3 linked regions of the Homo sapiens genome follow. The protein of the gene in region 1 interacts with the protein of each later gene in a pairwise test. Each region holds a gene or a part of one and is shown in the gene's direction. Other genes may lie near its edges.

What was found. Proteins that work in one complex are often made in the same cells at the same time.
Region 2: the proteins of FRMD6 (region 1) and TRIM55 interact in a two-hybrid assay, tested with the Homo sapiens proteins (one large-scale study listed by BioGRID and IntAct).
Region 3: the proteins of FRMD6 (region 1) and GMCL1 interact in a two-hybrid assay, tested with the Homo sapiens proteins (one large-scale study listed by BioGRID).

What each region holds. Positions count from the first base shown.
Region 1 is NC_000014.9:51,654,148-51,659,621, forward strand, and holds part of FRMD6 (FERM domain-containing protein 6), read left to right. Parts: intron 1-3,857; exon of another isoform or gene 3,858-3,933; intron 3,934-5,474.
Region 2 is NC_000008.11:66,133,629-66,137,128, forward strand, and holds part of TRIM55 (tripartite motif-containing protein 55), read left to right. Parts: intron 1-1,361; coding exon 1,362-1,527; intron 1,528-3,466; coding exon 3,467-3,500. UniProt on the Homo sapiens protein: E3 ubiquitin ligase that plays an important role in regulating cardiac development and contractility, muscle growth, metabolism, and fiber-type differentiation.
Region 3 is NC_000002.12:69,871,160-69,874,659, forward strand, and holds part of GMCL1 (germ cell-less protein-like 1), read left to right. Parts: intron 1-585; coding exon 586-673; intron 674-3,500. UniProt on the Homo sapiens protein: Possible function in spermatogenesis. Enhances the degradation of MDM2 and increases the amount of p53 probably by modulating the nucleocytoplasmic transport.

The sequences.
Region 1 (5,474 bases):
AGATTTAAGATGCTCCTGGCTGTACAGGAAAACGCCTGAAAACAGCATGGGCCTGGATGAAGACGCTGCTTTTGAAAGCAAAATGCCAGTGTGCTAGGTAGCGGTTTTTAGTTACAAATTCTTAAAAAAAATTGTTACTGAACTAGGTTAGCTGAATTGGGGGGGGGGTCTTTTTGTAGTTTTTGGATTTTGTTTCCACATTTAACTATACTTATAAAGCTTTTGGCTTTCTGAACTTATGATGTAATAGACTGCGTAGCCTTTTGTGGCAGATGCTTGGAATGAAAGTTTCAAACATAATTGTTTTTGACTGAGCTGTCAGGTTCAGAGTTGAGTGTAAATGAGTCCTGTCTCACAACTAACTTTTTTGATAAAGGAATTCTTTGTAGTTTTCGATTTGGATGTTGCACATTTTGATTTCTAAAGTTGTGGGTTTTTTTTTTTTTAAGAAAAATAAAACCTGCAAACAATTATTTTATTACATGAAAGCCAGTACCAAGAAAAGATTAATTCAGTCCAGATGTAAAAATGTATGTGAATTTTAGATTTGGATGATCTCAACAAGTTTTCCCTTTTGTGGATGGGACTGCCTGGATCCCAGATGGCATTCACAAATTATCCCTTAGGTAGTTTTCTGAGTTGAGAATGAGATTTCTTGGGCTTTCCCTAAAATCATTTTAATATTAAGTCTTCTAAAGGATAGAAAGTTTTTTGCATTTGTACATTTTTGCATTTTTCTGTTCATTAATACAAACCTCATAAATGCCCTAGTTTGGTAGATGAAGCATATTTCTTTCATAAGTGGGAAAACAGGAGGTATTCAGTTTGTGTATCCTTATGGGTAAAGCATAGAAATTTTGGCTCTCATTTTTGCAATTTCAACTTTCTTCTTTTAAAGTAAAAAAAAAAAAAAAAGTTTTAAGTGTGTTTACAATCCTCAATAGAATCCTACTGTAACACAGTTTGTGGATTCAGGTATAGCAATTGGTCCTTGTTTGATGATCCCCTACCTCCTCCCCACCCCCAACGAGGAAAAACAAACACAGTTTATTAAAAAGTCAGTATGTTTTTAAACGTGTACTCCCAGTACTAGAGTTATAAAGGCTGTTTGTTGCACACATTAAAATTATGTATTTTTAGAAAGTCTTTGTATGATTATATCATTACACATTTTGGGAGTGTGTTTATGTCGTGATTGTGTATAAAACAATGGAGAGTTAGGAGAGGGGAATGGGAAAGATTTAGTGAAGGAGTTTTATGAGTAGTGAAATTTCAGTTATAATGTATGTTCCCCAAAACCCAAACAGGAAAAATGTTATCGTTGGTCTCTGTGGTTAAACTTTTATACAGAGGGTAGTTGAGAGGGCTTTCTGAATTGCACATTATCCTGAGGAAGAGGCTTTGGGGGCCTTTAAAAGTAAGTAGAAACAAGTTAAAGGGATAATTTGAGAGGAACGAGGAAGTGGAATACTGGACATTGAATTGCAAGGAAAAAGTTAGAAGGATAAGTATTTAAAACAAGGCTGAAGTAGAGAGAACTTACTGTTTAGAAGTGTAGATTAAAGAATAAGGTATTTTTAGCTGAGAAAAAAGGATCAGAATGATTAGAATCAAGGTGCCCTATAAGATCTGTATACAAACTTGAAATAGGACTGCTAATTGATAGTTATCCTGGAAATTTTGCCTGTCTTTGTGTTGAATCACTAGTTTGGTGTTAAATAATGTGCAGGGACTGGATGCTTATAACTGTATCCCGTACACTCCAAAAGCCACTTCCCATTTCAAAGACTGGAAACATTTTTTGTTTAAGTGCTAATGATTCTACAAATATTTAATTAGTCCCCCAACATTTGAGGAAACTACTAATGTCTACTTCCCATGCTGTGGGACCAGAGGGGGCTCTACAGCAGTAATGGCTGAAGTTATTATGAAGTTTTAGGTAGAAACAAGCAATCTGTGCTTCTCATTACTTTATGCGATTTAGTGATGTAATTACTTCTGATGCAAGTTTGTGTATGATCACTTTTTGTATATATCAAATGGAACAGAGCAGTCATGCAGTATATATACCATATTGATCAAAGATGAATTACAGAACACTGAGAAGGGGAAAGAAATCATTGATCTCTCAGCTGATTGTATTGCTTCAAGTCAAGAAGAGAAAAATGTGCTGAAACAAATTCACAGATGAACCAAATACAGTCGCAAGGAGAAGGCAGTGTTTTCCTGGAGCTTCCTTGGAGTGGTCTGTAGCATAGCATTTTCTTTTCTTTTTTTTTTTTCTGAGGCGGAGTCTCGCCCTGTCGCCCAGGCTGGAGTGCAATGGCCTGATCTCAGCTCACTGCAGCCTCCACCTCCCGGGTCCAAATGATTCTCCTGCCTCAGCCTCCCGAGTAGCTGGGATTATAGGTGCCTGCCACCACGCCCATCTAATTTTTGTATTTTTAGTACAGATGAGGTTTCACCATGTTGGCCAGGCTGATCTCAAACTCCTGACCTTGTGATCTGCCCGCCTCGGCCTCCCAAAGTGCTGAGATCACAGGCTTGAGCCACCGCGCCCGGCTAGCATGGCATTTTCTTGAATGTCTTTCCCCAGCTGTATGGTCTTGTCTTAGCAGAGTTAAATTGATATATCAAGAAACTAGGTAGAGATTTGGTCATTATCCAGGTCATTGCATTAATGTGCTGATAATTGGGATAATTCTGACCAAAAATATCTATTTAGACTCTCAGTATTCCAAATGGATCCTCTTGGGGGTGTTTTCAGATGTTTTCCAACAACATTATCTTTGTACATGTTTTATACAACTTTGAGCAATAATGTTTTACTGATACATGAAGACAGAGGGAAAAACAATATTTTGAATTAATTTATAGCCACAGTTTCATGTGAGGGAGGAAATCATTTAAAAAAATTAAGCAATTTCTTGATGCATATTTTAGGAAATATAATGAAGTTTCTCACTTAGCTTTTCAGATGATTTTTCTCTCTGATTGGGTTAAATAAAATGTAATTAATTTTCTCCCCACAGGTAGTAGCACTTGTGTGTACAGTTTCAGTAGATGACTTTTTTTTTTGGTCCCTGTAGCTTTATTTCTTTGAACTTGTTACTGAATTATACACAACCAGACAAATGCACAGATCAGGAGTGTACAGCACAAAATGATCACATTTGGGCAACTAGCATCCAAATCAAGAAGCAGAACATTACCAGCCTCTCTTTACAGTCATCATCTTTGCCCCCAGGATAACCATTATGCTGACTTTTATTGTCATGGTTAGTTTTAAACTGTTTTTGGACTGCATTTAAATGCAATAAAATACACATTTTTTGGTCATCTTTAGCTCAGCATAATGTCATGTGATATATCCAAATTGATGTAGGTCGCAATAGGTCTTTTTTCTGTTATTTCTGTGAATGAATATGCCCAGTTTCTTTATCCATTTTGTTGGTGGATATTTGGGTAGTTTGAGGACAGTACATGGTAGGTGACCTTTTGATGGCTCTAAAAAATGTTGAGCACTTTGGGGTTGAAAGCAGAGTATGGTCTTAAAATTAAAAGAGAAAAAGTAACGTTAGAGGTAAGATGTGAGAGGAAAAAAAGCAATCTTAAGAAAACTTTAAAGGTTCCACTCAGCCACTGTATCCTAAGGATATAGTTTGGAATATACCAACTAGATATCACCAGATTTCAATTGAGAATTGGTAAGAGGAAGGAGGCCTTAGGTGACATCTAGCCAGCCCCATCATTTTTCAGAGATGGAGGCAGAGGTTGAATGATTCATACAGAGTCTCACAGCTGATGACAGCGCCAGTAGTAGAAGCTGCTCTGACTCTCAATCTTGTCTCCTCTAGTGCCACATGCTTGTTGGAGAGAGAGAAGGCAAGATCAGGGCTACCAACTGTAGCTGTGCAGGTTTTGCCATGCAAGGTGGGTCTGAAAACCAGCTCCCTACTATGTAGTCCAAGCAAGTGAGTCCATTGGGGGGCTCACTGCCTGGAGGATGGGTGCCCTTTTCTGATTAATGCAAAGGTATTCTATGGCTCTGTTCAGATAGACTCAGATCTGCCCAGAGGAAATGGATCTGTAGCCCAATGAGGCAGAATTTTTCTTCTTTCAGCCTGCTGTACCTCTGCCCTCCATACAGAGCTCTGTTGGGGCTTGCCTTTTCCCTTTTTTCTCTCTCTCTCTCACTTCTAGGGCTTCCTAATGAGACTTTGGGTTGTAAGTATCAAGTAGGAGATCTCTTGAGGTCCCTCTTGATTCACTCTTGTTGATCCATAAATGATCTAGGATGGACCCTAATTTCAAAGGACTGCTTTGTCAATATTTTTGGAATAATTCATCCTTAAGAAAATGTTTCAAAAATTCAGTTTTTGGACTTCTCCTGCCTTTATGCTTCTCCCTCTTTTCTCCCTTTTTGTGTCTTCCTTCCACCCCCATCCAGTTATCGTTTCTTAAAGATCCCTGGAAACATCCAATCTTTGTCTACTGAGAGCAGCAGTGAAATTCTGACGCTAAAATCTGTGGCAGTCTCCAGGAAGTACTTATTGTAAAACATAAGATTATGATTTCACTGAGAGATCTAACAGATAAAACAAAGTGCTTGCAAAGGAAAACTATTCATGTATACATTTTATTTTATGTTTCCCTAAAGAATAAAGGACAGTTTTATTACTTAAGAAAAGACTCAGAGCTTCAGCTTAAGCTCATTAAAAAGGTGAAGAGAAGTTAAAATTAGAGAATTTTATAAATATGTGGTATTTATATATCCTACCCGAATAAGATACTGCTTATCACAGCAAAAATTTAGCATATGTAATGTTAACAAGTAAAAAATATGCTGACCATAGGGCCACAGCTCTGACAAGTTGCTCATGAAATTACTACAGAATAGCGTAATCCGTATTGAAGACAGCATAGAAGAGGGATAGTAAAATATAATGATAGGAATGAGGTCTTCGAGATCAGTTCCCTGGGGCCCAAATCCAGACTCCAGTATTCTCCCATGTGTAACCTTGGGGAAGTTACTTAACTCTCTACACCTCTTTTTCCTCATCAGTAAAGTGGGAGATAGTTATAATAGCTATCCCACAGGATTGTTCTTATTTTTAAGTGAAATGGTACGTGTAAAACAAATGGCATGGTCTTTGATATATAATAAACGTCTTACGTGATGTTAGCTATTGCTGCTTAAGACAAAAAGAAGTGATGTATAAAAGGACTTATAGTTTTATTGGAGGTTCCCAAGCCTTCATTTATAAGCATTTCATGAGATTTAACTTTGTTTTTTGATGGCATTAAGCAGGCAACAAAACCTAGTATTTCTCAGTTACAGATACTGGCAAGTCTGTGTTGCTGCAGTAGGAGCAGCTGGCCTGTTGCACTGATTACTAATTGATCGAGTTATTTTTCTTAATTCTCTTCTAATTTCCAGCCGTCTCAGTCCTTCAGCTTCTGTCTGCTAGATA
Region 2 (3,500 bases), on another chromosome or scaffold:
CTGGAAGTCCGTGCAATTTTCTTACAAGACCCAGGGCTTCTCCCAATGTTTAGCCTAATCTCAAGTAATTGACGTCCACCTAGCAACTTATAAAGGAACATTAGCGTCTTACAGAGGCACATCAGCACGTTCTCTGCCTTTCTCTGAGTTCTGGGTCTGCAGCTACAAGATACCACACATCAAAAAAGATGGGTTTCAAACACTTGTATTCATGATTTACAGTAGGAAGTGCATTTTACATTGTGACCACTTACATATATGGACGGATATATATACACACACATATGTATATACACACATACACAAACACACACACACACACAAACACACATATACTTTTGTTTCAGTCACATATATACACACGTACACCTGAAACAAAAGTTTCGAACAGCAATACTTATTTTTACTACATGTAATTCACAGTATTTGCTATTCCATTCTATTTTTATTTTAACAATGCAGATCATAGCTCCCTAAATTGATTTCATGGCTCATAAAAACCTGTAGTTTTTAAAAATTGGATCTGTATAGCAACAAAACAAAATGTAGTCCCAAATCTAAGATGTTGCTAAATAACTATGTGTTTGGAAATTTGAAGAAAGCTTCTGGATTTGGATTTGAATTTTTTGAATACTTCTGAAAACTATTAGCAGCCTCAGTCATTAGATAGGATATATCAGAATTCCTGGGGTTTATATAAGGAGGTACACCCACACTTGCGTCTCATACACATTTGCATCCAACCAGTACTTGAATTAATAATCAGAAGATTTTGGTTCCATGTGAGCCACACCTATCCTCATTTCTTCAGGTGAAAAGGGTCTTTCCTGGGGCCAGAGGCTGGAGGGGGGCGATCTAGCTACTCCTAAAAGCTGGTGCAAACTCGACTTTTAGTTCATCAACAATTTCCTGTTCTTGGTCCATAATGGGAAAGTGTCCCTTGAGAAACTTGTGAGCATGTAGACACAGTGCTGGACCACGTTCCTGATGGCTCACCAGGGTTCGATATTCTACTTTCAGGAATTTCACTACCAGATTCTGAAACCTTAAATAACTTAAAATTGGCCATGTGGAAATACACCATGGAAATGGGCAAATGGTACAAATCAGGATCTCCACGTCTCTGTCCCTACCCCAAGCAGGTTGTTAGAGATTTGCCAGCACTCCCCTGCTACACCTGCAGGGAAGCTGAATTTGGTGGGCTCTGAGCATGTGAAAGGGCCCCTGGGGGTCTTCTGGAATAGAATTGCTGGGCATACAGGGAAGAGAAGGAATTTGCAAGGCAGAGCAACATCAGCTCTGCCTTGATGAGATTGCCCCAGTGAGAGCTGATGGACATTTATCTGCCTACCTCCTCCCAGGCCAGAAAAGAAATCCGACCAGCCCATGTGCGAGGAACATGAAGAGGAGCGCATCAACATCTACTGTCTGAACTGCGAAGTACCCACCTGCTCTCTGTGCAAGGTGTTTGGTGCACACAAAGACTGCCAGGTGGCTCCCCTCACTCATGTGTTCCAGAGACAGAAGGTAACAGAGCTGCTCCCTCCCTCCCGCAACCCCTCCCCATCCCCACACCTTAGGGCCTTCCTGGGGCCAGTGTGAGTGGCTCCCTGCGGTGGAGGAGGAAGCCCAAGCCACGCAGGGCCATGGGACACTGGAGGGCACACAAGGTCTGCAGGAAGACATGTGCACAGTTGTGCACGAGGCACACACCAAATTCCCTGGACGGTGGGGGACCAGGCGAGACAGGGCAGGGGTGCCCAGGTTCAGGAAGTGGTGCAGAACGGCACGATCCCTGTTTTTGTGCCCTTTGGAGGTTGCTGATGATGAGCAATGTTAGGGGACCCAGCAAAAGCTCAAACTGCTCCAGCTTATGTGAAGTTTAGACTACAGATAAGAAAAGGACAGCTTTTTACCCTAGTCACAGAATACTTTCCTTCATCCACCCATGAAAGATTTCTTTGGCCCTCCTCAATGCCTTTTATCCCGCACTCTTAGTGAGGGAGGGTTACACTGATGACATGCAGTTACAGAACAGCTTTAAAACACAGACTTGTGCTGGCCCTCCTGTCACCAGGGCCAGTTGCCTAAAAACCCCTCTGAGTGTGGTGTCTCCCCCTGACCCCAGGGCCTCAGCCATGGCCCCCTAATTCTGAGCAGACAGAAAGACAGTGTCTCCCTCTACACATTACCAACCTGCCAACCTGGTTTCATTCATGAGCAGGTCAGAATTTATCCATCTGGTACAGATAAAAGTGGAGTTGGGTACTCCAATAGGTGCAGCCACTCCAGGCACCGAGAACTTGAGCAGTTCCACTACTCAGTTTCTTTCATTTAGAATCATCAGTTCCACATTTGATCAGTGTTTTACTGTGAAGATCAGTGCTGAAATCAAATTTGGAAGCAAAACTCTTGGGCAACACCAATTACAGCTAGTGGCCACTAAGTCCTAAAGAAACAGATTTTGCAAATTATCCACAACATTTGTTTATTTTTGAATCCAGTTACAATTTATTCCCCCTTCTCTTCTGCCCACCTCCCCCAAAGCATAGCATAATAGAACTGGATGGTAGCTGTTTCACACTCCTTCCTTCAGAGCCTGGAGACTCATGTGAGATGGACAGAAGAACAGACTGGTGGGACCCTCACCCTTGCTCCTGTTTGGCCAAAGCAGCTTCACCTCCATATTAGCTTTCACTTGAAGAAGGTTCTGCAGCTTTAAAATATTTTATAATCACTGTTCTGGTCCAATCTTCTCCTTCTAAATGTGAGAAAATTAGGGTCAAAATTGAATATATGTTTTGCCCAACATCACAGAGAAGTTGGGGGTAGAGTTGGACCAAGCGCATGGGTCTCCCAAGTGCCCCTCCAGTGCTCCTGGTGGCTCCATCAGCCAGTCTTGGGAAGGGGGTAAATAGGAACAATAGAATCTCTTCCTAAGTCAAAAGAGCAAAGGAATTTAAAAGTTGACATTTCTCCCCTAGAACTAGTTCTTTGTTTCAGTGTGAAGTTTGTAATGACTTAGTCTAATGTGTGAGTGTTTGTGTCTGTATACACTATATTCTTATGCCCATAATAAGTATTTGTTGAATAAATGAGTATTTACTATACACATTTCCCAAGTAAAATTGACCCTTAGTTCCACTAGGCAAATAATTCCATTTGGGTCCCTGAAGTCACATATTGGTCTCCATGCTATTTATAAACAATACTTAGAATTCTTTAGCTTGAACATGTTGATCTTAATATTAAGACTGATGAAAACTGTGAAACCTTTCCCTGCACAAATGGATTCATACACAAAGGTTTGCTTGCAATATCAGAAGGTCCACAGGCCTCCCTGTTAGTCCTTAGGGGTTGCATGGATCCTAAATTAAGAACCTGTAAAGACAATATTATGACCAATTCACAGTCGGGGTGGCTAGGAAACCCCTAAGATATTGGGTTCATGTTTTCTCTTCATTAGTCTGAGCTCAGTGATGGCATCGCCATCCTCGTGG
Region 3 (3,500 bases), on another chromosome or scaffold:
TATATACATAAAATAGAACATTATTTAGCCTTGAAAAGGAAGCAAATTCTCATACATGCTAAACATGGATGAACCTGGAAGACATGCCAAGTGAAATAAGCCACTCACAAAGCACAAATATTGTAAGATTCCACTCATACGAAGTACCTAGAGTAGACAAATTCATAGGTACAGAGGATACACTGGTGGTTGCCAGGGCCTGAGGGAAGGGAAAGTGGGGAGTTAGTGTTTAATGGGTAAGGAGCTTCAGCGAGGGAAAATTAAAATGTTCTAGAGATGGGTGCAGAACAATGTGGAAATATATTTAATGCCACAGAACTATATACTTTAAAATGGTTAAAATGATAAATGTTACGTATATTTTACCACAATAAAAACATTTATAAATGATTTCTCTTGGCCAGATATGTATAATAGCACAGGCTTGTCACTGAATGCAGTCAGATTACAGTTTGAAAAGACTTCCTAAAAGTCTTTTATCAAATAAAAAACAGAGGAAAAAGTAAATATGAAAGTAAGGAAGAGCTTGTTTAATCTGTGGTTTAAAAATCTTGTGTTTATTTTTTATTTTTTTTTTAATCCTAGATTACGTTTGGCTTCTTTTGATAGTAGTGGAAAACTAATATGTAGTAGAACAACTGGCTATCAAATACTTACACTTGAAAAGGATCAGGTATGTTCGATTATCTTCTGGTATGTCATCATAATATTTGTCTTTTGAATCCTCTTTTGAAAATTCTTAAGTAGAATTAACATTAAAGTGATGGCATTTTGACCTAAAAGTTGGTTTAAAAGTCTTTTGAAGGTAAAGATGAAAGTACCACATTCACTTATGCATAATTGACCCCATCCCAATGGAAGCATAATTAGGAGAAAAAAAGAAAACACTGTTTGAGGGGCAGGGAAACACTGATTATAAGGAAATAATTGTTTATCCTGAATATCAGCAGCACTAAAATTCATTCCTAAAATTTTAGGAATCTTAAGTGCTTTATCCATTGTGTACATAGTGCATTTATTTATACATTCACAGCAGGCATCTTAAAGACAATCCTGTATGTCTCCATAGCTCCGAATATCATAAGAGCATTATTCTCTAGCCCATTAGGTTCGTAAGATGGCAAACTCTGCAATGTTCCCCAGATTATCTCCAAAGCCATTTATTTATTCATACATCACACACATGGAGAAGTTTCAAAGTGTCATGATGAGAAAGTAGACCATTTTTAAAAGTAAAACTGAAAGCTGTTAAAATATTGAGGAACTTTATTTCTATTAAAAGTAATCATCATTCCAAAGGGCATAATGTTTTATTAAAGGATTCAAAGCCTGTTATAGTTTACATAAATTATGAGAAGTTAGTAGTTTTCCTCAGACTGAAGAGACTATCATAGAACATCCTTAGCATTGCAAGTAACCCCGGAAGTGATCATTGTAACCTCACATGCCCTATATGAGAACTTCTTTTAACAGCATTCTTACAGAGGGGGTCATCCACCCATTGTTGAAACTCTAACTGACCCCCATCTTACATGAAAGGTAATATGTAGGAATGTCCATTTCAAGGCAGGTATATAATGAGAAAGTCCAAATCTGCCTCCATCAGAACTCTCTGTTGGTCCTTCTTGTAACCTCTGCAGCTGAACAGACAATGACTATCTTTATCTTCTACCTGAAACTTCATGAAAAATACTGTCATGGCTCAAACCCAGCCAGAGACCTAAAAAAGCACCAGGCCAAGATAATAGTTGTATTCCCATGTTCCTTCAGCAAACATTTGTGTCCCCACCATGTGCTTGGTTCTCAGCTAGAAGTAGAAGAAATAAAGACAGGCTTGTGTTAATATAGCCTAGTGTAAGTAGCATGATAGAATTAGCTCAGAGTGTGCAACCTTGAGGGAGAAGACTCTGACCTGTAACTGAGCAGCTGCCGTGGTTGGGGGTGGTTATTGGAGGAGGAGGAGAAAGAAAGACAGCTCAGGGAAAACATCCTCTCCTGGAAAAGTGTTAAAGTGAATGCATACCTGAACCAAGCCTCAAATGGTGAGTAAGATTTCCGGAAGCAAGGGAATACATGGGTCATATTCAAGGAACTGAAAGATGGTTGGAAGAGTTCAGTATAACTAGAGCCAGGGCATGAGGGCTGTGGATGGAGTTTGGGAGATTTACTTTGGGAGTTGTCTCCGTGTTTTATATAGGTTATAGATGTTGTCGAAAAAATAGAAAATATGAGTCAGCTGAAACAACAATCATACATGTACCACTCAGATACATTGCTGAGTTTTTCCTTCACCTGTATCATTTTTGCAAAATTGGATCACAGTAGGTTAGCTATTTTGTAACCTGCTTTTTTTTTTAATGGTGAAAAACATATATATTTAGAATTTGCCAGCTGGATTCAACTTAGATGATCCCAATTTTTTGGCAGCCTCTAAAAGCAGCATGCTCAGGAGCCAGCTGAACATGGGCTTTCTTCTCTCCATCAGCCCTGATCACGGTGTTGATCTTGGCCACATTGGTGTCATAGAGCTCCTCCACAGCCTGTTTGATCTTATGCTTTTTGACCTCGACATCCACAATGAACACAAGTGCATTGTTGTCCTCTGTCTTCTTCATGGCCAAGTCAGTGGCCTGGGAGAACTTGTTGGTCGCATAGTGGTCAGGCCTGGGGGAGAGGCAAAATGGGGTCACCTGGCCTGGGCCCAGTAGAAGAAAGGCTTGGTCCTCTTTCAGAGCCCAAGGCCAGGTGAGCCTAGGTGCATCAGACAGTGAGGTAGTAATTGTAACCTTTTTTTTTTTTTTTCACTTTGTTGTACATAGCTTTTTTTGGTCAATAAATATATATTCACAGCATCATTTTTATGAACGGCATAATATTAGTTGTTTTGGCTATACCGTAACTTAGATAATTCCTCTTTATTGGATAAAGTTGTTTCTCATTTTTTTTCATTACTATAGGAAATATACATATATCTTTGTCCATTTTTATGATATTTTTAAAGCATAAATTCCAAGAAGTAGAATTCTTGTTGCATGGTGCATACAATTTTCTAATGGCCAAATTGCCCTCCAAAGCTACTGTCCAATTTATACTTCCCCCTGGCAGCAGTACAGGAGAGTATACCCAATATTGTATCTTATTCTTTTTCATCTCTATCCCAGCGTAGTAAATGTGAAAACAAATATTTGTTTTAATTTTCATTTCTTTTTGTTTGTTTGTTTTGAGACAGAGTCTTGCTCTGTCGCCCAGGCTGGAGTGCACTAATTTTTAGTAGAGACAGGATTTCACCATGTTAGCCAGGCTGGTCTTGAACTTCTGGCCTCAAGTAATCCACCTGCCTTGGCCTCCCAAAGTGCTGGGATTACAGGTGTGAGCCACCGCGCCTGGCCCTTAATTTTCAATTTTCATTTCTTTGGTTACTGTATTGTTGGGTTTTTTTATGCTTATTGAACGTATCATCTCATGTAAACTGACAGCTTATATTGTTCCTGTTTAATTTT